7 linked regions of the Homo sapiens genome follow. The protein of the gene in region 4 interacts with the protein of the main gene of each other region in a pairwise test. Each region holds a gene or a part of one and is shown on either strand. Other genes may lie near its edges.

Evidence for each region.
Region 1: the proteins of KLRC1 (region 4) and CLRN2 interact in binary tests that used the Homo sapiens proteins (3 or more experiments, as listed by UniProt).
Region 2: the proteins of KLRC1 (region 4) and LSMEM2 interact in binary tests that used the Homo sapiens proteins (3 or more experiments, as listed by UniProt).
Region 3: the proteins of KLRC1 (region 4) and PMP22 interact in binary tests that used the Homo sapiens proteins (3 or more experiments, as listed by UniProt).
Region 5: the proteins of KLRC1 (region 4) and CGRRF1 interact in binary tests that used the Homo sapiens proteins (3 or more experiments, as listed by UniProt).
Region 6: the proteins of KLRC1 (region 4) and VTI1B interact in binary tests that used the Homo sapiens proteins (3 or more experiments, as listed by UniProt).
Region 7: the proteins of KLRC1 (region 4) and MALL interact in binary tests that used the Homo sapiens proteins (3 or more experiments, as listed by UniProt).

What each region holds. Positions count from the first base shown.
Region 1 is NC_000004.12:17,521,150-17,525,459, reverse strand, and holds part of CLRN2 (clarin-2), read right to left. Parts: intron 2,597-4,310; coding exon 2,417-2,596; intron 1-2,416. UniProt on the Homo sapiens protein: Plays a key role to hearing function. Required for normal organization and maintenance of the stereocilia bundle and for mechano-electrical transduction.
Region 2 is NC_000003.12:50,277,479-50,282,394, reverse strand, and holds the start of LSMEM2 (leucine-rich single-pass membrane protein 2), read right to left. Parts: upstream 3,309-4,916; 5' UTR 3,282-3,308; coding exon 3,224-3,281; intron 1-3,223.
Region 3 is NC_000017.11:15,262,527-15,266,818, forward strand, and holds the start of PMP22 (peripheral myelin protein 22), read right to left. Parts: upstream 2,801-4,292; 5' UTR 2,628-2,800; intron 27-2,627; exon of another isoform or gene 1-26. UniProt on the Homo sapiens protein: Might be involved in growth regulation, and in myelinization in the peripheral nervous system.
Region 4 is NC_000012.12:10,445,009-10,448,243, forward strand, and holds the end of KLRC1 (NKG2-A/NKG2-B type II integral membrane protein), read right to left. Parts: intron 2,625-3,235; coding exon 2,524-2,624; intron 1,655-2,523; coding exon 1,543-1,654; 3' UTR 1,020-1,542; downstream 1-1,019. UniProt on the Homo sapiens protein: Immune inhibitory receptor involved in self-nonself discrimination.
Region 5 is NC_000014.9:54,512,633-54,516,942, reverse strand, and holds part of CGRRF1 (cell growth regulator with RING finger domain protein 1), read right to left. Parts: intron 1-4,310. UniProt on the Homo sapiens protein: Able to inhibit growth in several cell lines.
Region 6 is NC_000014.9:67,664,089-67,668,398, forward strand, and holds part of VTI1B (vesicle transport through interaction with t-SNAREs homolog 1B), read right to left. Parts: intron 1-4,310. UniProt on the Homo sapiens protein: V-SNARE that mediates vesicle transport pathways through interactions with t-SNAREs on the target membrane. These interactions are proposed to mediate aspects of the specificity of vesicle trafficking and to promote fusion of the lipid bilayers.
Region 7 is NC_000002.12:110,087,761-110,092,070, reverse strand, and holds part of MALL (MAL-like protein), read left to right. Parts: intron 1-300; coding exon 301-468; intron 469-4,310.

The sequences.
Region 1 (4,310 bases), on a different chromosome or scaffold from region 4:
CTCACTATGTTGCCCAGGCTGGTCTTGAACTCCTGAGCTCAAGCAATCCTGCTGCCTCAGCATCCCCAAGTGCTGGGATTACAGGCGTGAGCCACCGTGCCAGGCTTACAGCATGACTATAAATGAGTGCATAGTATTTTATGCACTACACACTATAATTTATGTAAGTATTTTTAGTAGAGACTAAACAGTCTCTACTAAATTATAGAAATAAGGTCACACACTATAATTTATGTAAGTATGACCTTATTTCTGGATGTCTAGATTACTTCTAATTTTTTGATATTATAAAGTGCTACAGCAAATACCATTTTATGTACATCCTTGTTCTCTTGTCCAGTATTTCCTTAGCATAAATTCAAACATGGAATTGTTTAGTCAAAAGATATTCAAAGGCTATTCACCTTTTTCTGCCTTCTGACACTACAGTGTTGTTGTTTTTTTAAGCTCAGTGGCAAGAAATAAAGTTTTGTCAAAAGACATAAAGCTTTGCCTGTTTTTATTTTTTATTTTTTGAGACAAGGTTTCGCTCTGTTGGCTGAGGCTGGAGTGCAGTGGCATGATCACGGTTCACTGCAGCCTGGACCTCCCAGGCTCAAGCAATCCTCCCACCTCAGCCTCCCTAAGTGTTGGGATTATAGCTCTCAAGCAGCTGAGACTACAGGCACCGGACACCATGGACAGCTAATTTTTTTTTTTTTTTAGAAATGGGGTCTTGCTGTGTTGCCCAGGCTTTTTTGCCTGTTGCTAATACTCTCATCAGTAGAGTCTGAGAGTGCTATCTCTCTAAGGAAAGGAATGGACAGAGATAAATATTTATTTAATAAGCAGCGTTGAGCACTTTTTACATGACAGCCTCTGTGAGGATTCATGCAGATGAGGAAGACACCTGTAGTCTTGATGAGGGTAAGCCATGTATGTAAACAATTCTACAGGGTGGCTACCATCTGCAAACAAAGGCAAATACATAATAATTGATTGATTGATATACATTATAATACATAATAAAATAACATTACCTGTTTTTATATTATTCTTGTATAAGGTAATCATAGCGAGGGATTATTGTTCTAATGGTACCTTGAATATTTGACCTGAGTTTTCTGTGACAGCCCTCATTTCACAAGATTCTGTTATTTTCATTACAGATGATTTGTTAAGTGCATAATTAAATGTGAATTAATTTCTGTGCATCAATATACTCCCAAATCAACATGCGCGCGCACACACACACACACACACACACACACACACATCTTGTAGTTTTTGGCTTGGAAAACAGGTCATGATGGTCATAAATGAGAGCATGGATCTGTGGAAAAATAAAGAGCTTAGAATCAGTTACACCTAGGTTGGAATACCACCTCTGCCACTCATTGTGGTGCGACTGTTTAACTTCTCTGAGCCTCAGGCTCTTCATCTGTAATTGTGGGTCTAATAATACCTCCCATAGGGATGTGGTGAGATTTAAATGAAGCAATGCATGCAAAATCTCCAGGTCCCTGCCCAGCCCTTAGTGGTTGCTCAGTAAGTTGCATCTAGTTTAAGGGCATGGTGCAGTGAAGGTGTTGGGGAGGTGAGAGGAGGGAGAGTTGAGACAGCCAGTGAGCCACGTCTGCATTAATATGCCCAAGTGTGTGTGTGGGGGGAACACCAAAGACCTTGGCAACTAGATGGCACTCACTTCCCCTTCTCAACCCAGAGCCTGAATGGAGGAGCCTTTCACGAATGGCCTCTTGCTCACACTACCCTTCTCTTCTGTCATTTGTGGAGTTCCTCCCAGCCTTAGCTGCAGCACCAGCTCCATCTCTTTCCCATCTCAGGGCCCCCACCTCTCCCTACTTCCAGCTCTCTGTCTTCTGGCTTCTTCTTTCACCTCGATCTCTCTTCACTGCTCTAAGCCCTCAGCCATTCACGTACTCTAATAAGATGCTTCTTTGTTGTGACAGACTCTGCAACTTAAAGAGGAAATTCTTGAGCACTTTGGGAGGCTAAGACAGGTGGATCCCTTGAGCTTAGGAGTTTGAGACTAGCCTGGGCAACATGGTGAAACCTGTCTCTATAAAAAATACAAAAAATTAGCTGGGCATGGTGGTGCACGCCTGTACTCCCAGCTACTTGGGGGCCTGAGGTGGGAAGATCACTTGAGCCCAGGAGGTCAAGGCTGCAGTGAACTGAGATCGCACCACTGCACTTCAGTCTGGGTGACAAAGTGAGACCCTGTCTCAAAGAAAAAAAAAAAAAAAGAAAAAGAAAAAGAGGACATTCATTCCATGCCCATCAAGAAGGTCTTAGACCCAGGAAGGTCAAGGCTCCAGTGGGGCATTTTAGTTCCTTCACACCTTCTGCCCAACTACTTGGAGCCCAGCCCTATGATGGTGTGGACATAATTTTCTCTCCCTAAGGGACTTCTTACCTGCCAGGACATTCCATAGGCAGATGCCCCCAGGACCGCTGACTGCCCGGTACGGGACCTGGATCATGTTAAGAATGGCAAAGCCCATGCTGACCAGAGCCAGGGCCAAGGCCAGGAAGAGGAGCAGCAGAATCATCACATGAAGGCCTGCGTTGAGCTCCTTCACCAGGTGTGGGAAGACTGGGGAGACAAGACACAGCCACTATTTCAATGTCAGAGTTAGACTCACTTTCATGAAGTCCAAGCTTGCTTACCACGAAGGCTTCGACAGACAGGGGTGAGGGCAAGACAGCAAGCGTGGGGATTTCAAACAGCGGGAGACTTTCTGAGATGAACTCATGGCCCCCAGATTCATGCTTGTCAGTTGACCAACAAGCCTCTGTTCCTTAGAGTGGACACAAAATCAAAATATGCCCTGGCTGTCAATTTAAGTTGCATTGAGCTTGAAGCTCTGGGATCTGATGTGAACTGATGCACACAGGCCCCAGTGACTTAGCAAGGTAGACCCTGGCTTATCCCCATGTATGAAGGACACATAATTCTCACGTTGCACAACGTTTTATTAAAATATTAATTTGCCTTATGAGTATGGCAAAATAAGTTAGTGAAATCTTAATTCATATTTGTTTTCTCTATGTTTGCCAGCAGTACCAGCTGTGAAGATGAAATGACATAACATAATAGAGTAGCTCAAATAGTGCCTGGGAAAGTCAGTTCTCAAAAATGGCAGCTGTGGTTATTGCTGTTATATTTTGACAGTCTTGGGAAAGTCATGTGACTTCTCAAGCCTCAATTTCTTCATCAGTACAATGGGGATAGTAATCCCTGCATATGAATTGAGGATAATCAACATTTACTAAGTGCAGTCATGGGCCAAACATTTTACATCGTCATCTTGTTCAATGTGCATGACAAAGACATGAGGTAGATTTTATAAACTCCTTATACCCACAGGCTTGGAGACATTAATTGCTTGTGTTTGGGGAAGGCAACTCTTAATTCTATATAAGATTATAGTTCAATATACTATGAGAACAAATGTGACCCTGAAAGAGCCCGTCCTTCAAGATGGGTCCTGAGTGGTTAACTGGCTCTAAATTTAAAGTAGGGCCAAGTGGCCATTTACTGACTAGGGGGTCACACGCATCTTCTGAGTTCCTTGAAAACCCACACCTTTTTATCTTTGAGATCTGCCTCAGCCAATCAGGGCTCAGCTGTAATGACCAATCGGGGCTCAGCTGTACCAGCTAATCAGGGTTCAGCTGTATCCACCAATCAGAACTAAGTGAATTTGAATCCTTTATTTACCCAAACAGACCTGACTGGAAACCTGGGTGGGAACTTTTGCTATAAAATCTGAGCCTTCCCTTTCTTCTCTGGAATACACCTTCCTTTTACACCGGAGGCTGTGTTTCCCTGGTTTGCAAACCGTTAACTGGAATAAATTCTTTACTCCAAATTCCTTTTCTGAGAACTGTTGTTCACAACTGTATGGTATCAACAGTGTCAAGTCATGATCTTTAGTAGTTTTACATGAAGAATTGAACATTATGAAAGCTACAGAACTTCTGAGCATACTCATTCCTCTGCAATTGCTCCAAGGTTCCTGCTGAATACCCACCCTGATGGAACTAGTTCCTTTGCTGGTTCACCTGCCTCTCTTAGTCACTGAAGGTTGGCGTCTCCCAGTCCTGAGAACTAGAGTTTTTGTTTTTCCCGTTAGGTGTCCCGTTAGGTGACACATTTTCAGGCACTCCACGTTTACATTGTGCGTTCTGATGTTTCTTTCCAGTTCTGAATTTCCATTTATTTTTATCTCCCTATGGTTATCTAATCAGCATTGGAAACTTTACCCTGGAAGATGAGCTCCTTTCCAGTGAGTTTGTCTTTGTAA
Region 2 (4,916 bases), on a different chromosome or scaffold from region 4:
AACTGCCTCTTGACGTGCTCAAAAGCAAGTACAACAAAAACAAGCAAGTGCTGCCAGTCATTATGTCTGGGTGGTGGGTTGAAGGTCATATTAAATTCTCTCTTTGGGCCGGGCACTGTGGCTCATGCCTGTAATCCCAGCACTTTGGGAGGCCAAGGCAGGAGGATCATTTGAGTCTAAGAGTTTGAAACCAGCCAGGGCAACGTAGGGAGACCCCATCTCTACAAAAAAATCAAAGATTAGGGCCGGGCATGGTGGCTCACACCTGTAATCCCAGCACTTTGGGAGGCTGAGGTGGGCGGATCACGAGGTCAGGAGTTCAAGATCAGCCTGGTCAACATGGTGAAACCCCATCTGTACTAAAAATACAAAAAATTAGCCGGGCATGGTGATGGGCGCCTGTAGTCCCAGCTACTCAGGAGGCTGAAGGCAGGAGAATAGCTTGAACCCAGGAGGCGGAGCTTGCAGTGATCCAAGCTCAAGCCACTGCACTCCAGCCTGGGCGACAGAGCTAGACCTCGTCTCAAAAAACAAAAAAGTAATTAAAGATTAGTTTGGTGTGGTGGCATGCTTCTGTGGTCCCAGCTTCTCAGGAGGCTGAGGTGGGAGGGTTGCTTGAGTCCAGGAAGTCAAGGCTGCAGTGAGCTGTGATCATGCCATTGTACTCCAGCCTGGGCAACAGAGTGAGACCCTATCTCCAAAAAAAAAAAAAAAAAAAAAAAAATTCCCTGCTGCCGGGCGCAGTGGCTCACACCTATAATCCCAGCACTTTGGGAGGCCAAGGCAAGTGGATCACAAGGTCAGGAGTTTGAGACCAGCCTGGCCAATATGGTGAAACCCCGTCTCTACCAAAAATATTTAAAAATTAGCCAGGTATGGTGGCAGGCGCCTGTAGTCCCAGCTACTTGGGAGGCTGAGACAGGAGAATCACTTGAACCTGGGAGGCAGAGGTTGCAGTGAGCAGAGATCGTGCCACTGCACTCCACCCGGGGCGACAGAGCAAGACTCCGTCTCAGAAAAAAAAAAAAAAAAAAGGGCCGGGCGCAGTGGCCCATGCCTGTAATCCCAGCACTTTGGAAGGCCGAGGTGGGCAGGTCACGAGGTCAGGAGATCGAGACCATCCTGGCTAACACAGTGAAACCCCGTCTCTACTAAAAAATTCAAAACAAAAATTAGCTGGGCATGGTGGCTGGCGCCTGTAGTCCCAGCTACTCGGGAGGCTGAGGCAGGAGAATGGCATGAACCCGGGAGGCAGAGCTTGCAATGAGCCAAGATCGTGCCACTGCACTCCAGCCTGGGCGACAGAGCAAGACTCTGTCTCAAAAAAAAAAAAAAATTTCCCTCTTTGTACTTTGTTGTGCTTTTCTCACACTTTCTAAATTGAATGTGAATTGTTTATTACAGGAAAAACACACAGTAAATGTTATTGTTAAGATCCCAAAAGAGGGTAGGCACAGTGGCTTATGCCTCTAATCCCAGCACTTTGAAAGGCCAAGGTGGCTGGCCGGGCGCGGTAGCTCACACCTGTAATCCCAGCACTTTGGGAGGCCGAAGTGGGTGGATCACGAGGTCAGAAGATCGAGACCATGCCGGCTAACACAGTGAAACCCCATCTCTACTAAAAATACAAAAAATTAGCCAGGCGTAGTGGCGGGCTCCTGTAGTCCCAGCTACTCAGGAGGCTGAGGCAGGAGAATGGCGTGAACCCGGAAGGCGGAGCTTGCAGTGAGCTGAGATCGCGCCACTGCACTCCAGCCTGGGCGACAGAGCGAGACTCCATCTCAAAAAAAAAAAAAAAAGAAAAGAAAGGCCAAGGTGGGAGGATTGGATTGGTTGAGGCCAGGAGTTCAAGACCAGGGAGACCCTTCTCTACACACACACATGCATGAAAGTAAACATTTCCCCCTACCAGGGGCAAGGCCCCTCTCCTGCAATGTTGAAAATGTTGGCAGTGGCTCACGCCTGTAATCCCAACAATTTGGGAGGCCAAGGTGGGTGGATCACCTGAGGTCAGGAGTTTGAGACCAGCCTGGCCAACACGGTGAAACCTTGTCTCTACTAAAAATACAAAAATTAGCCGGGCATGGTAGCACATGCCTGTAATCCCAGCTACTTGGGAGCCTGAGACAGGAGAATAGCTTGAATCTGGGAGGCAGAGGTTGCAGTGAGCCGAGACCGCACCACTGCACTCCAGCCTGGGTGACAAAAAAAAAAAAAGTTGAGGCCAGGCGCGGTGGCTCACCCCTGTAATCCCAACACTTTGGGAGGCTGAGGTGGGTGGCTTACGAGGTCAGGAGTTCAAGACCAGCCTGGCCAAGATGGTGAACCCCCGTCTCTACTAAAAATACAAAAATTAGCTAGGCATGGTGGCAGGCGCCTGTAATCCCAGCTACTTGGGAGGCTGAGGCAGAGAATTGCTTGAATCTGGGAGGCGGAGGTTGCAGTGAGCCGAGATCACGCCACTGTACTCCGGCCTGGGTGACAGAGCGAGATTCCATCTCAAAAAAAAAAAAAAAGTTGAAAATGTGATAAGAGGAGCTTGCTAGCTGGGCCATGCTCTGTCATGGGCCATAACATGGAGCCATGGAGCAGACAGTCCTACGTCCTGGCCAGTACTGGACCTGTAGCTTCCTAGATTCCTGCTGCCCTGGCCCCTCTGAGCATCAGTACTTCTTATATGCAGTGGTGCAGTTAGGTGAGTGGCCACCAAGCTCTTGACTAGCTGAGTCTCTGTCTGACCAGGCCAAGGGACCCCCAACCCTAGGCAGTTGGGGATATTTAGACCCAAGTCAGGGGAGGCCAGAGGCCTAACTACTTTTCAGTCCATGGGACAGGTACCCAAATGCTTTCTGGAACCACTACCCACCCCAATCCCAGCTTCCTTCCTTAAGAGCTGAACCGGCCAGGCAGCTGACCGGATGCCCACACCCACCTGAGCACAGCCTGTAGTTGACCCACTCCTAACTGGGTAGCTTCTCCCATCCCTCCTTGATGTCCCCAGCAGGGGAAACTGAAGCAGGGCCTGAGGTGACAAGGGGCTCCAGGCATGGCAGGCTTTTCCTCCCTGCACAGGGGGCAGGTCCTTTTACTGGAGCTGGAGCATGAAAATGGGTAACTAACTACTCAAGACAGTGAGGTCAGTGGGACAGAGGGTGGGTCTCTCCATGGTCCACAAGGTCACAGGACTGAGGCCTTGCCCTCCCTCATGGTCACCCTCTCCTACCTTCTTGGGTCTCCTCAGGCATGGCAAGCAGTGGGCAGTCGGGGGCCAATGATGGCATCCAGTAGCAGGACTGGACAAATGCAGCAGTGGCTCCTTTGTGAGCCCAGGGAAGGCCTGGCTGCCTCCCAGCCTTGGCCTAAAATAGGCCTGAGCTCAGCCCACTGGGCTATATTTAGAGGGGGCAGCCCTCAGCCATGGGAAGGGGCAGAGTGATCCACGTGGGCCAGCCTGAACTATCTACCTGGTGAGGGAGCCAGCCAGGAGCCTGCCTCCACTAGTCCAGGTGCCCAGGGACCTTCAAGGGGAAGCACACCTCCCCCATACATCCAGAATGGCCACTCCAGGCTCAGCAAGGCCCCATGTGGCAGCCAAGACAGACAAAGGAAGCCTGTGCATCTCTATTTGGCCACCCCTCTACCCCTGCAGACTCCTACCCACAGCCCAGTCATCTCTCCTCCCAGCAAACACAGCAGCCTCCACTGCATGACCTGCTAGCACACAATGCTATTGTTGTGTGTGTCTTATAGAGGGTGATGGACAACTGAATCCCAATGCCATGAGGGCTCTGATAGCTTCACAAGTGGGCAGATACACCAACAGCACCCATGCTGGCCAGTGGGTGGACCTAGGTTGGAGGCTGGTTCATTTGTTACTAAGCTTGCAACCTTAGGTAAAGGGTCTCCCCTCTCTGAACTCAGTTTGCTCATGTGTAAAGTCGGAATAACAGTGGCTCCTCCCTGGCAGTGTACACTGAGAACAACATCTGGAGCATTTAGCACAATCCACGGTTTTGGTCTTCCCCTGCTCCCATCTCCACAAGGGCAGACAGGTCCCATAAGGTTGTGTAAGGATGCGCATCACTGCTTACCTTGAAAGGAGGAGGTGGTCCAGCTTCCAGCTTTCCCTCTGTGGTTGGATCCCTGTGCCCTTCCTTCCCAGTGGGGGCAAAGCAAGACTGTGGGCTCTACTTCCTACACACCTCAAACCTGTCACTCCGTTGTCTCACACTGGCCTCCCTGATGTTCCTCAAAGTCAACAAGCTTGTTACCACCTCAGGGGCTTGGTGGTGGCTGTTCCCTCCTGGAATGCTCTGCTCCCAGATAGCCCTGTGGCCAGCCCCGTCTTGTCAGCGAACTCAAATGCCACCCCTTCAGTGAGGCCTTCTGTGTACATTCTTTTCCACATCACCCAGTTTTCTTTTCTTTGAGACAGAGTCTCGCTCTGTTGCCCAGGCTGGAGTGCAGTGGGGCGATCTCGGCTCACTGCAACCTCTGCCTCCCTGGTTCAAGCAATTATCTTACCTCAGCCTCCTGAGTAGCTGGGATTAAAGGCGCGTGCCATCACACCCACCTAAGTTTTGTATTTTTAGTAGAGACAGGGTTTCACCATGTTGGTCAGGCTGGTCTTGAACTCCTGACTTCATGATCCGACTGCTTCGGCCTCCCAAAATGCTGGGATTACAGGCGTGAGCCACTGCGCCCGGTCCAGTTTTATTTTCTTCCTAGCACTTAGTCCTGAAGTTATATTATGCACAATGTACCCTGCGTGTCACTATTCCCAAAGGCCCTACAGAACCTGTTCAGTCACGCGGAACCACCTTTTTTTTTTTTTTTTTTTTTTTTTTTGGAGTCTCGCTCTGTCGCCCAGGCTGGAGTGCAGCGGCGAGATCTAGGCTCATTGCAACCTCCACCTC
Region 3 (4,292 bases), on a different chromosome or scaffold from region 4:
GCTGCGCGCGCGCGAAGCAAGGGGGCAGTGGGAGGCTCCTGGCGTTCCCCTTTAACGGGAACAACGCCCTGTTTGCGTCGCTGCAGTAGGGTGTGTCCCTGGGTCAGCGTGTGCGGGAGGGCGGGACTCAGGGAGGAGAGGGGGCAGGAGAGAGGGAGGGCAGGAGACAGTCACTTGGCCTTAAATGCGCCTCAAGAAAAAGTCGGTCCCTGCAAAACCGCGGCGACTTTTACTCGAAACCAGAGGCGGCTGAGCTTTCTCACCTCCCACCTCCCTTCTCCCCTGGCCCCGTGGAGACCTAGTGTTGACCGAGAAACTGGCTCCTCAGCCCACTCTGGGAAGACCCAGCCAAATGTAGCTCAGCGGATGCCCAGGGCTGGGCTTCTGGGCCCGCCGACGCCGACCGCGCCCGCGCGGGGCTGAGGCTGGATTCCTTTCCCACTAATAGAGGGCAGCGGGCGCTTGAGCGCTGGAAGAAGTCCCTCTCCTCTCGGGTCCTGGAGCCCCTGCCCTGTCCTGGCGTCTTAGCCGGACACACCTGCCCCGCGCCGGTCCCCGCTATTACTGTCTGCACCTACGAAGCATGCCAGCTTCCTAGGATTGGCGGGGATTGATCTAGCGGGCTCCTCTTGGGTGCGAATTAGGGGAAGAAAAGTCCGGCCGACTACTGGATAGCATGGTCTGGGATTGGGCTCCTCCTAGCCTAGGCAAAACCAGACTACCACCGAATAAGCTCTAGGCAAAGTGTTCCTGCAGCAGTCGGGCTTGGCTGTCAGCCTTGGCTGGAGTCCTGGCCATGGGGTTTGGCGGGCGGGTGCGAGGTGGCCATTTGAGGTGGGGTTGGAGCAGCCAAGGAAATCAGCTGATTCATAGCCTCCTAACGTGGCCCGCCCAGCGTTACAGGGAGAGAGGCTAGCCCCCTTCAGTCTCGGCTTGGCAGAGGCGCGCCCAACTGAGACTCCCGTGCGCAGGCCAGCCTTGAGGCACGGGACAGGGAGCAGGAATGTGGATGTTAAAGGTTTCTGCCTGAAAATGCAGCAGTTCACGCACGCGCGCGCACACACACACACACACACACTTCCCTACCTCTAGTGTACTGTGTCATAGAAGCTCATCACTCTCAATGATTCAAATAATTCTATATTATTTTACGATTTGAAAGGAGCTGCTATTTTAGCTAATTGTATATTCTTACGGTAAGTAAAAATAAATTTGAAAAAGATCTTCAAACAATGATCTTTTTAAAACTATCGTGTTATCAGATTAAAATGAAGTGTACTTGTAAACACTGCATTTACAGTGCCCGTTATATGCCAAGCACTTTGCCTGGACTTTATATGCATGGTCTGTGAGAGGCAGTATGGTGCAGTGGTTAGGCACTCTGGCTCTGGGCTCCAACAAACCTAATCACCCTGCTTACTTTTGTTGTGAATTTGGGCAATTTCTCAAGTTCACTGAGCTTCAGTTTTCTCAGGTGCAAAAGGAAATAGTAATGCCTGCTTTAAAGGTTTATGGTGGTGATTGAAGGAGACAATATGTACAAAGCAGTTAACATCGTGTCTGCAACATAATAAGGGCCCAGTGCCCAAATTGCCACCACTATTATTATATCACATTTAACTCTCACATCAACCTTTCAGGGAAGACCTGACCACCTCTGCACTAAAGTAGCTTGTAACTCTGATAGGTAGGTAGGTAGGTAGGTAGATAGATAGATAGATAGATAGATATAGATAGATAGATAAAGATTTATAAATGAAAGTGCATATGCAAGTAGAAAAAAAAGTCTAAAGACATGGCAGTGTTTTCTTTCCTCCACAGGTCATTTTATAAGTTAGATTTGCTCTAGAAATTATTACTTTGTTTTATGCCATTTGGACATTTATTTATTTAACCAACACTTATGTGATCACAACATACTCAGGACTGTTCTAAGTAAGCACTTTAGAAATATGAGCATATCTAACTCAGGGTTTTCTTTCCCTTCCTTTGTGATTTTCAAATAAACTTTTTAATAAAGTCTAATACACATACAGAAAAGTGCATATATTGGGTGCTACAGCTCGCTTCTTCCTTTCTTTTGAACCCAATAGTTTAATCAATAACCACCCAGGTCACAGCCACACCATATACTGCCAGACAGGTAAACCCAACCCATCTGTCCCTCACTGCCTCTGGCCTCCTGCCTGGTTCTCAATGGTGGCAGAGGAAGTGCTACTCAGTGCCTGCTGACCAGGCTTGCCACACCCAGAGCCCGGCTGGCCAAGGCTCTGCCACAGGTGGCAGCTTCTCCCTAACCTGCTTACCAAGGCCACCTGCCAGCTGTGTGTGCACAGCTATTTTCCATGGGGGAAAAAGCATCTAGATTCCTTTCTTCCTTTCAATCTGGATGCATTAGGGTTTCTAGATGCTCTCAGATGGCCCCCCACCTCCCCAGCCAGAGTATATATCCACCTTTTAACCAAGGATATAAAAAGCCCTCTGAATCTCCAGTCAATTCCAACACAAATGCACCATCTCTCCTGCAATCCTTTTCATTTGCGGCTTGCAGGGGGTGGGAAATTAGGCAATTCTTGTAAAGCATAGGCACACATCACCCAGAGGCACAGTTTGCCAATAAAACTCACCCGGCCAAACAGCGTAACCCCTTCTTCCAAGCAGATTTCTTTGCAGCCAAATGCAAGGGATGTTAAGGCAAGACCCTCCCCACAGGGCAGTCAGAGACCCGCAGCCGACAGACTAAGCCTGCAGCTTCCAACCAGGCTCCCCGAGATGTTCCCTGGTGGTGCTCCCTGTAACTGAAGCCAGACCAGGCGTCTTTCCAGTTTATTCAGGGGCTGGTCCAATGCTGGGATATGTCATGGTGGCCTGAGAGGTTCTCAGCCTCTATTATTTAAAGAGACAGTGTCCAACTTTGTTTGCTTTCCAGAATACAATAATCCCAAGAGGCCCTGCAGGGCATGGAGAAACTGGAATCAGAAGGGAGAAGAGCTTTGAGTATGCCTGAAGCCTGTGATGCCAAGACTGTTCTCTCTGGAAGTGCCAACCTGTGTAATAGCCAAGAGGTCCCACTGGCTCCCCTCCCCTCCCAGTGAATTCTGCAGAGATTAAATATACTGTGGGAAGGATCTGTGTCTACAGTGTTACATACGTGCAGGTAAGTTTTATTTTAAATAAACTTCCTTTTAAGGAGCCCAAACATTGCACAGCTAATCTCTCACAGCATCACAGCAGTGAGCCAAATGTCTCAAGAGTCACCAAATCAAGCCTCCTTTGTTCCAACCCCTGGTTGGAAGGACTCCCTGTTACCTGCCTTGTCTGCCTAGACCCCATCGCAAATGATCACATGTGTTGTACATTAGAATAAAACTTAGGGAAATGTGTTCTTCCGACTCTGTCTTTAATGTGCCCGAATCAAGCTGACCTTCATGAGATAATTCAATGCAAGTAAACGAACCTCTATTGAAAACTATTGAAAACTTTCTAACCTGTCAGGCAGAATAGGCTGGAAGAGCAATTGGAAATTCTTGGAGAGGGAAGTAAAGGAAGTTATGGCATATTTAGGTTCTTTGCAGCGTACCACTCCAGCTCCCAGAGAGTCCTCCATCCCTTGAACCGCTTCTAGCTGCAAACTCTGACACAAGAGGACTGGTTTCATTGCATGAGTTTCCTGGAATTCTGGCACTTGGGGCATAAGACTTCCTCTTGTGTTAGGGATCCCCAGTCTGGAGAGACCTGCAGAATTTGGAGGAGTCCCTCCCTGTCACACACTTTACGTTTGATTGGACTCTCCAGTCACAAGGGCCTCTCAATGGCCCTCTCCCCTGTTCTGCCCACAGCCAGCATCTGCTCACAGCCAGCATCACAGCCAGTGCCAATAAAATAGTTTCACCTTTCTCTCTTTGCTGAAATCATTTTTATTTTTCACAGCAGTGGTTCTTTAGAATCACTCAAGAGCTTTGCAAATGACCTAGCCTGGGCCATGGTCAGAGAAGCTGACTCAGGTGTTTTGGGATGGGGCTCAGGTATGGGTAATTTCCAGTGTCTTTCTCCCCGCTGGATGTTTCGTTGTCCAGCCAGGTTGTCATGTGGAGTTAGATTGTCGCTGATTTCCTTCCAGCTCCCTTCTGTTGTGGAACCCAAATGGAGATGAGGTACAGTGTGGGCTGCTGCAGTATTATGCAAGTTATAAGTCTGTTCTGCCAGGCAAAACGGTGTGTGTGTGTGCGCGTGTATCTGTGTGTGTGTGTGTGCGCGTGTGCGTGTGTGTGACAGAGAGAGAGAGAGAGGAG
Region 4 (3,235 bases):
CCCTGGTTTGAAGTGATTCTCCTGCCTCAGCCTCTCGAGTAGCTGGGACTATAGGTGCACACCACCACACCCAGCTAGTTTTTGTATTTTTAGTACAGATGGGGTTTCAGCACGTTGGCTAGGATGGTCTCAATCTCTTGACCTCCTGATCCACCGGCCTCAGTCTCCCAAAGTGCTGGGATTACAGACATCAGCCACCACACCCGGCCAGCACTGATATTTTATGAGGGAAATATACAATGATCACCATGGATTTATTTCAGAAACAAAGGCTGGTTTAACATTTGAAAAAATAAAAGTAGTTTATAAAATGTTATATAAATACAACATATATCATTCCAACTGCTACAAATTAATAAAAATGTTACAATTGATAAAATCTATTAGAAAATAGGAATATTATAAAACTGCTTCGATATGAGAAAGATAGGATGAAAACAACACCAAGCTTTGTAAATATGAATAATATGTTTAAGTATTTTTTGCCAAAATCAGAAAACGATACATATGATACACACAGAACTTTGATTGTACCTTCTATTCAACTATGGGTATAAAACCCTAGCCAGTGAAAATAAATGAAAATAAAACTACGTTATAGCATATAGATTAAAAAAATAAAAGTGTGATCATGTGCAGATAAAATTGCTCGTTATATAGAACACCCAGAAATAAATCAATAGTTGACATAATAGATTTACATATATAAAATCAGTGGAATAAGTAGATATAAAATCAAAATGCAGACATCAGTTGTATTTCTATTTATAACAACAAAAATTACTAAAGGGAATTTTAGAATCAGGATGCCATTTACAAAAGCATAAATGTAAAATACCTACATTTCTGTATGACTTCAATCCCCCAAAATACAAAATACAATAGAGAGAAATTAAAGATAACACAGTACATTGAAGGAAACACTTTATATTGATTAGAAAAGTCAATATTATAAAGAAGCTAATCTTTAAAAATTACTTTAGAGAATAAATGCAGTCACAAATAATCCCAGGAGAGGCTTTTTTTTTTTTTCTGGATAGCTTTATTGAAGTGTCGTGTACAAAGCATACATTTCATGCACTTAAAATGATTAAAAATCAATGATGTTTAGTATATTCGCAGAGTTACAACCATCACCACTACTGAAATTTAGAAAGTTTTCATCACGACACAAAGTAACGTTCTATCAGTTAGAGGTCATCTCCTATTTCAACCTCCCTCAGACATTGGCAACCACTATTCTACTTTCTGTCTCCATGGGTTTGACTGTTCTTGGTACTTCCTATAAGCTGACTCACATAACATGCAACTTTTAGAAAGGCTGAAAACCACAAATACCATGTTGAGCAAAATGAGCCCGACACAAATGCTAGGATGTCTGTACTTTAGTAATTGTGTGTATCCTGTTTCAATAATTGATTTAGAATTTTCTTATTAGAGCAAATAACATAATTCATTTTAAGATTTATGCAATCATAATATATTTCTATTTTAAGAAATATACAATTTATCTGATGCACTGCAAATGCAAACGCTTTACCTCTAAAGCTTATGCTTACAATGATATATTATTGAAGATCCACACTGGGCTGATTTAAGTCGATTTACTTGTAGCACTGCACAGTTAAGTTCAGCATTATCTGAGTCTTTTATCCTGTAATGGAGAAAAATCCATATTCTGTTACATTTTAAGCAAATGATTCATGAGACGAAAGCATTTTCCATGTACTGTAAGAAAATAATTTCATGGAAAAGGGTAATTAAATTTTTCATAATATTAGTAAGAGTCATTATTCTGAACACTCAACAGAGTAGTCCCCCTTCATCCACGAGGGATATGTTTCAAGATTCCAGTGGATGCCTGAAACGGCAGATAGTGCAGAACCTATAGAGAGATTATGTTTTCTCTACACATTCATAACTGTGATAAAATTTAATTTATAAATTAGGCACAATAAGAGATTGACAACAATAACTACTAATAACAAAATTATAGCAATATGCCAACAGCACTACTCTTGTGCTTTGAGGATATTCTTAAGAAAAAAAGTAAGTGTGGCTTTTTAATAAAAACAAGCACTGCAATTCCCTGATAGTCCAGCTCGAGCTTGTCCAACTCGCTGCCCACGGGCCGCATGTGACCCAGGACAGCTTCAAATGCGGCCCAATACATATACGTAAACTTTCTTAAAACATTCTGTGATTTTTTTTTTCTTTTTTTTGCTCGTCAGCTATCGTTAGTGTTAGTGTATTTTATGTGTGGCCCAAGACTCTTCTTCTTCCAATGTGGCCCACAGAAGCCAAAGATTGGACACCTGATAATCAAGAAGGTTACTAGCTGACCAATGAGCGGTTGAAATATATGGACTACTATGGTCTATTGTAAAATATTTATGTCAGCATTTCACTAACTTTCCACATCTTTCTTCATCTCTATGATTCCACATAGATTTATTCATATTATTCTTCTGAATTTATCCTTTATATATATATTGTTATATAGCGCCATACAAAACAACTTACTCATGTTTGAAAGCCAAACCATTCATTGTCACCCATGGATGATGACTGCTGTTACGAAACACACCAATCCATGAGGATGGTGAAATGATGGACAGAAATTTCTAAAAGAAAAGAAAGAATTTTCACTTAAATAATAATTATGAAAACATTACAAAAACAATATATTAAATTTGAAAACCACTATTTGCAGTGCCAAAAACTTTCATAAATGTTTATAATTTTGATATAAATGAACCCGTCAATGTTTATACTTAGTACTTTTATTCTTCTCATGTTAATAAAGAAGTTTTAATTCTTGCATTATAATAGTTACCCCAATTGACTGAATAAACACAGTAAGGATTTAAATAAGTCTCCTGATACTGTGCATTCATTCCTCCAGATACTGTGACTAAATCAAACTATTTTTGTGCTATATTTCTCAGAGTTGGAGATTTAGAAGAGAAATTAGAGGTTGTGATTCAGAAATAAATGACATGGAAGCTACATATTGGGTTTTCTGGGTACCACACCATTCTTTAACTAGATAAGCCCTCACTTTTTTATCTGATTTGGTTTTGGTGGAATAACAGTGATCCTGACCAGGTGGTGTAGACTCGTCTCTCTCTGCTACTCCCTACTAAAAACAACTATAAACTCTGGGATTAATGAAAGACAAAAGCAATGGAGAACTCTGAAAGGTGGAAAGAGAAAGATGAAATTGTCTGGGACC
Region 5 (4,310 bases), on a different chromosome or scaffold from region 4:
TAACAGCAGATTAGGTATTGCACAATAAAAGATTAGTAATCTTGAAGACAACATAACAGAAAGTACTGAAATTGAAACACAGAAAGGAAAAAGACTGAACAACAACAACAACAAAAAGCATCAGTAAGCCAACTTTTAGTCAGCCATGTAACTGAAGTCTTAACATATCACTGAAGTTTGCAGAGGACAGATAAAGTATTTGAACACATAATGGCGAAAACCTTCCCCAACATGTTGAAAACTATAAAAACCTACAGACCCAAGAATCTCAATGAGCTCCAAGCACAAGAAACAAGGAAAATTACCTAAGGCACATAATAATCAAATTGCTTAAAACCAGTAATATAGAGAAAATCCTAAGAAAAAGAAAGAAGATATGCTACGGTAGCCAAAGAAAAGGAAAAAAAGATATACTACACATAGAGGAACAAAGATAAGAATGTCAGTAGCTTTTTAATATTAATAAGAAGCAATGGAAGGCAGAATATCTTTAAAGAACTAACAGGAAAAAAATCTTGTCAATCTAGAATTCTATACCTATATTTTTCCAAAGCAAAATAAAGACTTTTTCAAACATAACAAAAGCTAAAAGAATTCATCACCAACAGACTTGCACAACAAGAAAAATTAAAGTATGCCTTGGGAAGAAGAAAAATGATACCAAATAAAAATCTGGATTGATACAAAGAAATAAATAGCAGTGAAATGGTAACTACGTGAGGAATTATAATGCTTTTCTTATATCTCTTTAAAATATTACCTGAAGGTAGATGGTGATAAGTTAGAGATACATTATAAACTTTCAAGCAACCACTAAAAAAAGTTATTGCTAATAAACCAACAAAGGAGATAAAATGGAATCACATAAATTATTTAACTAATGTAAATGATGGCTGAACAAAGGGGAAAAAGAAACAAAAAACAGACTAGTAAAATAAAAGAGGGGAAAAGAAACAAAGAACAGACAAAACAAACAAAAAACGAATAGCAAGATGGTGGAATTAAATCTAACAATATCAATAATCACATTAAATGTAAATGTTTTAAACTCCCTAGTTAAAAGGCAAAGATTATCAGATTGGATAAAAACATAAGACCTAGCTATATGGTGCATACAAGAAACCCACTTTAAATAAAAAGACAAAAAGAGTTTACAAGTAAAAGGATGAAAAAAAGATGTATATGCTAACACTAATCAAAAGAAAGCTGAAGTAGCTACATTAATACCAGACAAAGTAGATCTCAGAGCAAAGACTATTACCAGGATCAAAGAGGTCCATTTCATAGTGATATAAGGGTCAATTCATCATGCACACAAAATAATCCTAAATGTTTATGTACCTATTAATAGAACTTCAAAATATAAAGCAAAAACTGATACAACTGCCAAGAGAAATAGATAAATCCACAATTATAGTCAGAAATTCTAATACTCCCCACAACTTCAATAACTGATAGCTCCAATATATAGAAAATCAGTAAGGACATCAAAAACTTGAATAACACTATCAACCAATTTGACTTAATTGACACTTATAAAACATCTCACCCGGCCGGGCGCGGTGACTCACACCTGTAATCCCAGCACTTCGGGAGGTCATCGCGGGCAGATCATGAGGTCAAGCGATCGAGACCATCCTGGCCAACATGATGAAACCCCATCTCTACTAAAAATTAAAAAAAAAAATTAGTTGGGCATGGTAGTGCACACCTGTAGTCCCAGCTACTCTGGAGGCTGAGGCAGGAGAATTGCTTGAATCCAGGAGGCGGAGGTTGCAGTGAGCCGAGATCATACCACTGCACTCCAGCCTGGTGACAGAGCGAGACTCTGTCTCAAAAAAAAAAAAAAAAACAAAAAACTCACCCAATAATAGCAGAATATATATTATTTTTAAGTGCATTAGGACATTTACCAAAGAGAGAATATATTTGGATTATAAAACAAGTCTCAATAAATTTACAAGATGTCAAATCATAAAAAGTATGCTAACCACAATGGAATCAAATTATAAATCAGTAACAGAGATATCTTTAAAATTTCCAAATATTTGGAAACTCAATAACAAACTTCTAAATAACTTAGAGGTCAAGAAAAAAATCAAAAGGGAAATTATTTTAAATTATGACCTGAATAAAAATGAAGACATATGTGTCAAAATGTGGGGGAATGCTGATAAAGCAGTACTTACAAGGAAATTAGAAGGCACTCAACATTTCTGTTCCATCTCCTGGAAGAGAAGACCAAATACAGCATGTTCTCACTTATAAGTGGGAGCTAAATGATGAGAACTCATGAGCCCAAAGAAGGGAACAACAGATACTGGGATCCACCTGAGGGTGGAAGTTAGGAGGAAGAACAGGAGCAGAAAAGATAACTATTGAGTACTGGGATTAATACCTGGGTGATGAAATAATCTGTACAACAAACCCATGACACGAGTTTACCTATGTAACAAACCTTCACATGTACCTCTGAACCTAAATGTTTAAAAACAACAACAACAGAAATCTCAACGTTATAAAATACAGGCCACCAATGAGTCCAAGTTTCCATCAAACAAACAAGTATGAGTTAACGCTTTAGATGCAGAATTTCTTGAGAATATACCCAGATGAATAAATATGATCTGATCTAGTGTTACATTCTATTCTCCGGCTTACAATCCATCCTCACATATATTCCTCAGGATTCCACAGATATAAATTAGCAAAATTTTGCAATTCTTTTCAAGGACAGACTATTTCTAGTCAGATCAGATTTTGTCCCTATACTAGGCAACATGCAGAGATCTGGGCCTCATGACAAGATAATAGAGGTAGCTCTTAAGTGTGGATAGCCCTTTGCAAAGAAACTACCCTAGGTGAGGTTATTACAGGATCTTCAAGCAAGAGAAGGCTAATTTTCAAAAGTAAGCAGCTTCTGTCAACAATGGAGGCTCAGAGTGACTGGAGTTTTTTTCAAGATTCTCAGCTCTGTCCATGTCTACCTAGATGTCCCCATTCCAAGTCTCAGGGTTCTACTTCTTTCCAAACAATATTCTAAATGAGACACTGACAAAGGCTAGGTAATTCTATTACTATCGCAGTTAAAACTGTGTTCAGGCACCTGCCACCATGCCTGGCTAATTTTTCTATTTTTTGTAGAGACCGAGTTTTGCCATATTTCCCATGTTGGTCTTGAACTTCTGGGCTCAAACAGTCTTCCTGCCTCAGCCTCCCAAAGTGCTGGAATTATAGGCAGTGAGCCAAAATCATGCCACTGCACTCCAGCTCGGACAACAGAGCAAGACTCTGTCTCAAAAATAACATAACATAACATAACATTACATAACATAACATAACATAACATAACATAACATAACATAACATAACATAAAACTGTGTCCAATTTTTAGCAAGTCTTTCCGTGGCTACACAAAATGAAGTGCTTTAGAACCATGGAAACTTTTTGATTCTCTAAGACTTGACCGATCTAACGCTTTGAAGACCTGAGTTTGTCATTTGCTTTCTGTCAGTGCTCCAGTGAACAAAGAAGCACCTATCTCACTTCTCACTTCTCCCTCAGTCCCTGTAGTCATCATTACTGCCATTAACAGTCAAGCGCTTTAGCCACTTGGTCCTCCAGCACACAGCTTCAGAAATAATTTTATCACAATCAACCAAATGTATCAATTTGATTGTGATGCCACTACATGTTGTGGGTTACTAGATTATTTCCCATTGGCAAAGAGCTAAAGAAATTACCAAACCGATGCCCCCAAATTCTATCTTTGAAAGTTTTCTCACCAGGATCCCATTCTTAGTGACAATTTCTTTATCAGTCAGGGTCCAGGCAGGAGTCTGAAAATGCATCCGTTATTTTAACAGAGAGATTGGACTTGATTTTTAAAGTTGTCAGCATCAACATCAAGAGAAATTTTCATATGAAAAATGTTAACCATATGTTGAAGAACTGAAAAGGCAAAAAGAGGACACTGAGTCCTACTTATGTGATAAGAAGTAGTAACAGCAGGAAGCAGCTATCACTCCTAGGACAAGGGAACAGAGAAAAGAGAATAAAGAGAATTTACTATAGTTTAGAAATGTGGAGGAGAGACTCTATGGAGCTCAGGACTCAGATCTGAGGAAAGGATACTGGTATCTTTAAGGAAGTGCATAAGGCTGATTCTAGCAGAGTAGGAAAGCATAAACTGGAACAAGTGGGACCAACTATTAATGCCAGAGTGAGGCACTATTGTGGCAAGTGACAGACAAGAAAAGGAATCAACAGGAAGCAGCAAGTCCCTTCATCCTCTTCCAGCTTTCCAGTC
Region 6 (4,310 bases), on a different chromosome or scaffold from region 4:
TGTTTGTTTGTTTCAAGACAGAGTCTCACTGGTCACCTAGGCTGGCAAAATACATGTAATATAAAATTTACCATTTTGACCATTTGTGAGGGTATAGCTTAGTGGCTAGGTACATTCACACCGTTGTGGAGCCATCACCACTAACTGTTCTCCAGAACTTGTTTATCCTCTCAAACTGAAATTCCGTACCCATCAAATACCTCCCCATTCTATGAATTTCACTACTCCAGGTACACCATTAAGTGGAATCATACAATATTTGTCCTTTGTGTTTAGCTTATTTCACTTAGCACAAAGTCAAGGTTCATCTATGCTGTTGCACGTATGGGGATATGGCCTTTTAAAGCTATGTATTTTTCAATGTGACTCCTAAACACAAGCCAGCAGCACTTCCACCAACTAAAGAGCAATTTTTTTTTTTTTCTTGAGACAGAGTCTTGCTCTGTCTCCCAGGCTGGAGTGCAGTGGCTCGGTCTCGGTTCACTGCAACCTCCACCTCCCAGGTTCAAGCGATTCTCTTGCCTCAGCCTCCCGAGCAGCTGGGGTTACAGGCACCCACCACCATGCCCGGCTAATTTTTTTACATTTTTAATAAAGACAGGGTTTTGCCATGTTGGCCAGTCTGGTCTCAAACTCCTGACCTCAAGTGATCCATCCACCTCAGCCTTTCCGCTGCAAAAGAGAACAGATGAGCCGGGCTTATGGAGAAATGGCATGTGGGTATTCAGTTGCTGTCCTGAGATTTTCTTAGATGATTTGTCTACTCTGATTTTCATCTTAAGACCTGGCTTTTTTTGAGACTGTGTCTCACTCTGTTGCCCAGGCTGGAGTGCCGTGGCGTCATCTCAGCTCACTGCAAACTCCAACTCCTGGGTTCAAGTGATTCTCATGCCTCAGCCTCCTGAGTGGTGGGGTTACAGGAGTGCACCACCACAACCAGATAATTTTTCTATTTTTTGGTAGAGAGGGGGTTTAACCATGTTGGCCAGGCTGGCCTTGTGTGGTCCACCCATCTCGGCCTCCCAAAGTGCTGGGATAACAGGTGTGAGCTAGTGCACCCGGCCAAGCCCTGACTTTTGAACCCAATCCTACATAAGATGTAATGTCACTGTAATGCTTTATATGGATTTACATTTTGTTAATCACAACAGCATCTAATGTCAGTTATATCTTTTTTTTTTTTTTTTTTTGAGACAGTCTCACTCAGGCTGGAGTGAAGTGGCATGATTACGGCTCACTGCAGCCTCGACCTCCCAGGCTGAAGCAATCCTCCCACCTGCTCAAGCAATTCTCCTGCCTCATCCTCCCAAGTAACTGAGACTACAGGTGCAGGTTACCACACACAGCTAATTTTTTTTTTGGTAGAGATGGGGCCTCACTATGTTGCCTAAGCTGGTCTTGACTCCTGGGCTCAGGCAATCCTCGACCTCAGCCTACCAAAGTGTTGGGACTACAGGTGTGAGCCACCACACCTGTCCTTGTATCCCACTTTTTAAGTGACCATAAATCATTTTGGATGCGTATATTCTATAATCTCAACTTGAGACCAAGTTCCTCTGAAACATGGAAATTTATTTTGTCATTTTTACTGTGCCATAGATCCTAGAACTATAAACCTCCTTAGATGTGGCTACTGCCTGAAAGGGCAAATGACAACACACCCTTTACTATGTCTCATTCATTGTTGTGTGCCACCCCCTTAATATACACAAGATACTTCAGACAATTTTCTCCATACCACTCACAAAACCCATGGCTGTTTGTTGTTTAAAAAAAGGTAGAGGAAGGTTCACCATGGCAAATGGTATGACTCTTGACCATCTATGATGTAACTGAAATGAGCACCAAGGCAGCTATTACTGTTCCTGAGGGGGATGTGTTCTTAGCTACCAGTACTGAAATAATACCGACAGTCAAAAACGGCTACTTCCATGGAGCAGTATTGTATTATTTTGTAATAAGCTGTCCCAAAAGTGCTGAGCATCATCACTGCTCTGAGTCAGCACATCTCCAAACTCAGGCATGCTCACTCCTGATCCAAGCCAGACAGTAAGAAGCAGTACTGTACACATATGTACATTCCCTTCCTAGCTCCTTCCTTTCCTAGACTTTTCTACAACTGTGTTTAGTCATAAATTCTCCTCCTTTATTCTTCCTTTGTTAATGGGTATGAAAATCCGCATTCTCAAGAGGCAAATTCTAGAATGATTCCAGGAATGTAACTACATAAATGAAAGGGGGAGAAGAAGACCACAGAACCTCTCTCCTTTCACTAACTTCTGTGTGCTAGAATATTCCATTTCCTACCTGATTTCATAAAACACATTTCCTCTTATAAGTGCTCTATAACAACATACTTTTACAGAACTTCACTACATTTATGAGATCCTTTCTGGACTTCTAAGATTTAAAACAAAACAAAACAGAAACCTTTGAAATCATTTCTTGTGATGATAAAGCCAGGGAGGCAGATAATTCAAGAGACTGATCTCTACCCAACTGAGAGGGATCAATAGCAGCTTTTTAAAAATTCTTTAGGCTCAGAATTATGAAACCAATGAATGCTAGAGCTAGGATGTACCTCAGCGATCATCTAGTCTAACTTCCTGCCTTTACCACTGAGGACACTAGACCCTGGAGAAACTGAGTGCCTGCCCCACAGTCATTGGAACAGCAAATGTATGGCAGCACTAGTTCTGGAATGCAAGTGTGCTGACTCCCAGTCCAAGGCTTTTCTGTATATTAAACAACTGTATACTGTATACAACTGAGGGGCATTTTTGTGCTCCCAGAGTATAGCCTTTAACAACTGGTAAAATCTGTTGAAAAAACAAAAAACCTCTTCCTCTTTTTAGGGAGTTAGAATTGATGCTACAATCAACTACAAACAGCAAGGTGGCATCCTGGGGAGAATGGGCACCATGAACAAGAATGAACCACTTCAAATACCACTATCCCCCACCCCACAAGCCTGCCCAAATCAGTCACATGTGAGGGACTCTCTGGGACCAACTCTGTCTCCTTTGGGAAACTGGGTGGATGCTGACATGGAGTAAAATGGAAACAGACAGCTCTGAAAAACAGCACTACAGAAAGCCTACCTTAATGTTTGACCAAGGTGGGCAGCCTCTCTTCCTTATGGGGATTTGAATTTCCAGCCCAAGAATGCCTAATCTTGGCCCTTTAAAGTTGTGGAAACAACTTCAGTTTCACCAGCTCATAAATATGTGGTTACTTTGCTTTTGGTGCCTCACTGTGGCAAAATGGAGGACTTACACCCTTTATTTGTACACCGTGACAGCTGACTAGATCCCACACCATACAAGAGTTAAAAGCAACAGAGATCCCTCTCAACCAACCTGTTTCCTCATCTGCAAATAGGGACTATAAGACTACTGACCTTGTAAGGGTTGTTTGAAAGGGTTAAAAGAAATAATACACATAACATTCACTTAGCAAGTGCCAAATATAATAAGGGCTCAATAAATAGAAACCACCATTGTTTCTGAAAGTAAATACTTAGGAAGAACCTAAGAGCAAAAACCAAATTCAGTAGAAAATATGAGGAGTTAGAGGCCAGGCGCGGTGGCTCACGCCTGTAATCCCTGCACTTTGGGAGGCCGAGGCGGGCGGATCACGAGGTCAGGAGATCGAGACCATCCTGGGTGACACAGTGAAACCCTGTCTCTACTAAAAATACAAAAACTTAGCCCGGCGTGGTGGTGGGCGCCTGTAGTCCCAGCTACTCGGGAGGCTGAGGCAGAAGAATGGCGTGAACCCGGAAGGCAGAAGTTGCAGTGAGCCGAGATCGCGCCACTGCACTCCAGCCTGGGTGAAAGAGCAACACTCCATCTCAAAAAACAAAAAACAAACAAACAAAAAAAATGAGGAGTTAGAATAGTTAAAATTCTACAGTCTGTAAGTAATTGGTGTTTATCGGCCAGCTGATTATAGTACTCCATAGTGACTATTTTTTCTGGCTCTGAAAATAATAGGGTCTTGTGTTATACATACTGATCTAAATGATTTAAAATGGAAAACTTTCAATATTTTTATGATACACGTTAAGACATATGGAGAGATGTCTTCAGGTATGACAAAACCAAAACTAGAAATCATGACCACAGGCATTTAACATTGATTAGATTAAGAAATTATAGCACATTATAGTACTCTGAGGTAATTGGAGAGACCTCTTCAGAGGTTGTAAAACCAAGAGTAGAAATTATGGCCATAGGTATTTAATGAAATATTAAATGGATTAATAATTATTGTAAGTGGTAATGGACAGTTACACAAAAACTTCCTAA
Region 7 (4,310 bases), on a different chromosome or scaffold from region 4:
CAGAATTGTTTAAAAAGTGTATATGCCAATACTGCTTGAGCCAAAAGACACATTCACAAGCTAGATTTGGCTGAGAGTCCCTCTGTTCATGACCTCTGCATTAACCCCTTGAATTTTCTAACAATCGGACCTGACTTTACCGTGACTCAGCGGGGCCAGCCTTCCTTCCCCATTTTCCTCTTGGTTCCCTCCTAACTTCACCTGAACTTGTAACTAGAGACAGAAAAGAGACACCCTGCAAAGGGAAACATACTCCACACTAGCTAATGAAGCCCCTTCTTTTATGCTTTTATCTTCCAGATATTTGGGTTCTTGGTCTGGACCATGGTAGCCGCCACCCACATAGTATACCCCTTGCTGCAAGGATGGGTGATGTATGTCTCGCTCACCTCGTTTCTCATCTCCTTGATGTTCCTGTTGTCTTACTTGTTTGGATTTTACAAAAGATTTGAATCCTGGAGAGTTCTGGTAAGAACCAGCAGCATGGCTCTTCCTGGGTGGACGTTCTGGGTTGGGTGAGGACAATTGGCCTTTCTGGGCAGGGAGGGATCCTGGGCTAGGCTCCTATGGAACCAAGACTTTTTATCTTACCATTTTTACTACCACGCTAAAATGAAGACATTTATCTGCAAGCGTAAATAATTCCTGGTATTCCCCTTCACTGGCTTCCCTGTTAGGAGAATACACAATGACCTGTGATCAAGCATATTCTGATGTGTTTCCCCTAAATTTTCTTCCTGGTAAAATCCTTGGAGCAACACTGAAGAAAAAGCTAGTAGGAAAAAAATCACTCCATTCTCAAGGCCCTAACACAATCCCTGCGACAGGGTATTTCTTCCATATCCCACATGAATTATATGCAAAGTATATATACATATATACGTATATACATATGTATATATGTATATATATGTATATATATACTTTAATTGTACTCTACAAATAATTTTGGATGTAGATGCTTTCATTTAATATTACATCACTAATTTTTATTTATCACGTCATCTCAAAAAACCATTTAAAACTGTTCCACACTGAACAATTGAAGACATATTTAAAAGTACAGAATATTGTATTATAGGCCCTCATGTAGCCATAACCCAGATTCCAGCATTATCAAGACCTTACCACATTTGTTTCATCTAGCCTTTGTCCCCACTAAGGAATTTTAAAGCAAACACCAAACATCATGCCATTCTATTCCACACACTTCAGTATGTTTCCAAAAAAACTCCGCAAACTTTCTCACATTATCACATGTATACGAAGTAAACAATTCCTCAGCATACCTAAGACAGTATACAGTGGTCCCCCATCTCCGGAGGATAAGTCCCAAGACCCCTAGGGGATGCCTGAATCCTCAGAGAGTACTGAACTCCGAATTTGCTATGCATGCACTTCTTTTTTCTTCTTCACAATTTCACAGATAGACAATTCATTCTTACTGTAGATCTTAACAACCTCAGCATATTTTTTTTCTTTCCTTATTAAGCTGAAAACTTATACTTTTTAACTTAAAGAAAGCACCCTATGACTTCTCTTTGGCATATCCAAATTGCCAGCATCACTACTCTTGCAATTTGGGGCCATTATGAAGTAAAATAAGGATTCTTTGAATGCAAGCACTGCAGTGCCACAACAGTTGATCTGATAGCCCAGATGAGTACAAAGCGACTAACATGGGTGGCACAGACAGTGTAGACATGCTAGACAAATGTCTGATTCACATCCCAGGTGGAACAGGGCGGGACAGTGCAAGATTTCATCATTGTACTCAGAAAGGCACACATTTAATTGTTAATTTCTGGAATTTTTCATTTAATATTTCAGACCAAGATTGACTTTGCGTAACTGAAATATACTGATCTTTATTAGTCTGCCATTGCTTACGACATAGATATTACATTAAAAACACTGTGTATTAGTCTATTCTCACATTGCTATAAACAACCAGAGACTGGGTAAATTATAAAGAAAAGAGGTTGAATTGACTAGTTCCTCATGGTTAGGGAGGCCTCAGGAAACTTACAATCATGGTGGAAGGTGAAGGCTAAGCAAGGCATGCCTTGCATGGCAGCAGGAGAGATGGGGGAGGGGGAAGTGCCATACTTTTAAACCATCAGATCCCATGAGAACTCATTCACTATCATGAGAACAGCATAGGGGAAACTGCCCCCATGATCCAATCACCTCCCACCAGGTCCCTCCCTTGATACATGTGGATTACAATAGGAGATGAGATTTGGGTGGGGACAAAGAGCCAAACCATATCATTATACCACTGGCCCCTCCCAAATCTCATCCTTCTCACATTTAAAAATACAATCATGCCTTCTCAACAGTCCCCCAAAGTTTCAACTTATTCCAGCATTAACCCAAAAGTTTAAGTCCAAAGTCTCATCTAAGACAAGAGAAGTCTCTTCTGCCTATGAGCCTGTAAAATCAAAAAGCAAGTTAGTTACTTCCAAGACACAATAAGGGTACAGGCATTGGGTAAATGCTCCCATTCCAAATGGGAGAAATTGGTCAAAACAAAGGGGCTACAGGCCCCATGCAAGTCCTAAACCCAGCTGGGCAGCCATTAAATGTCGACATTCCAAAATCTCCTTTGACTTCATGTCTCAGATTCAAGTCACCCTGTTACAAAGGGTGGGCACCCAAGACCTTGGGCAGCTCCACCTCTGTGGCTCTTCACAGTACAGCCCCTGCAGCTGCTTTCACAAACTGGCATTGAGTGTCTGTGCTTTTTCAAGGTGACCAGTGCAAACTGTCAGTGAACCTACCATTCTGGGGTCTACAGGACAGCTCTTCTCACAGCTGTACTAGCCAGTGTCACAGTGGGGACTCTCTGTGGGGGGTCTGACCCCACATGTCCCTTCTGCACTGCCCTAGTAGAGGTTCTTCATAAGGGCTCCACCCCTGCAGCAGACTCTGCCTGTACATCCAGTCATTTCCATACATCCTCTGAAATCATGGCAGAGGTTCCTAAACCTCAATTCTTGCCTTCTGCATGCCTGTAGGTCCAACACCATGTGTAAGCTGCCAAGGCTTGAGGCTTACACACTCTGAAGCAATGGCCCAAGCTGTACCTTGGCCCCCAGCTGCTGGAGCTGGGGCAGCCGGGTTGCAGAGTGCTGTGTTCCAGGACTGTGCAGAGCAACAGGGCCCTGAGCCTGGCCCACAAAACCATTTTTCCCTCCTAGGTCTCTGAGCCTGTGATGGGAGGGGCTACTGTGAAGATCTCTGAAATGCCCTGGAGATATCGTCCCCTTTGTCTTGGGGACCCTCATTACTCATGAAAATTTCTGCAGCTGACAGCTTGAATTTCTCCCCAGAAAATATGTTTTTCTTTTCTAACACATGATCAGGCTGCAAATTTTCCAAACTTTTATGTTCTGCTTCCCTTTTAAACATAAGTTCCAATTTTGGACCATCTCTTTGTGAATGCATATGATTGTACACTTTCAGGAAAAGTCAGGTCACATCTTGAATGCTTCAATGCTTAGAAATTTCTTCTGCCAGATACCCCAAATCATCTCTTTTAAGTTCAGAGTGCCACAGATCTCTAGGACAGGGGTAAAATGCCACCAGTCTCTTTGCTAAAGCATAGCAAGAGTGACCTTTATTCCAGTTCCCAATAAGTTCCTCATCTCCATCTGAGACCACCTCAGCCTGGATTTCATTGTCCATATCACCATCAGCATTTTGGTCAGAATCATTCAACAAGTCTCTAGAAAGTTCCAAACTTTCCTACATCTTCCTGTCTTCTTCTGGGTACCCCAAACTGTTCCAACCTTTGCCCATTATCCAGTTCCAAAGTTGCTTCCACATTTTCAGGTATCTTTATAGCAGTGCCTGACTCCTGGTACCAATTTTCTGTATTAGTCTGTTCTCACACTGCTGTAAAGAACTACCTGAGGCTGGGTAATTTATAAGGAAAAGAGGTTTAATTGGCTCACAGTTCTGCATGGCTAGGGAGGTCTCAGGAATCTTACAATCATGGTGGAAGGCGAAGGGGAAGCAAGGCACACCTTACATGGCAGCAGGAGTGAGAGAGGGAAGTGTCACACTTTTAAACCATCAGATCTTATGAGAACTCCCTCACTATCACGAGAACAGCATGGGGAAACTGCCCCCATAATCCAGTCATCTCCCACCAGGTCCCTCCCCCAACATGTGGGGATTACAATTCGAGATGAGATTTGGGCAGGGACACAGAGCCAAACCAAATCACACTGCAAAAAAAAAAAAAAAAGGCAGGACTCTAGGGGGCTGGCCTGCCTCATTTGCTCATTCTTTACTGCTATGTA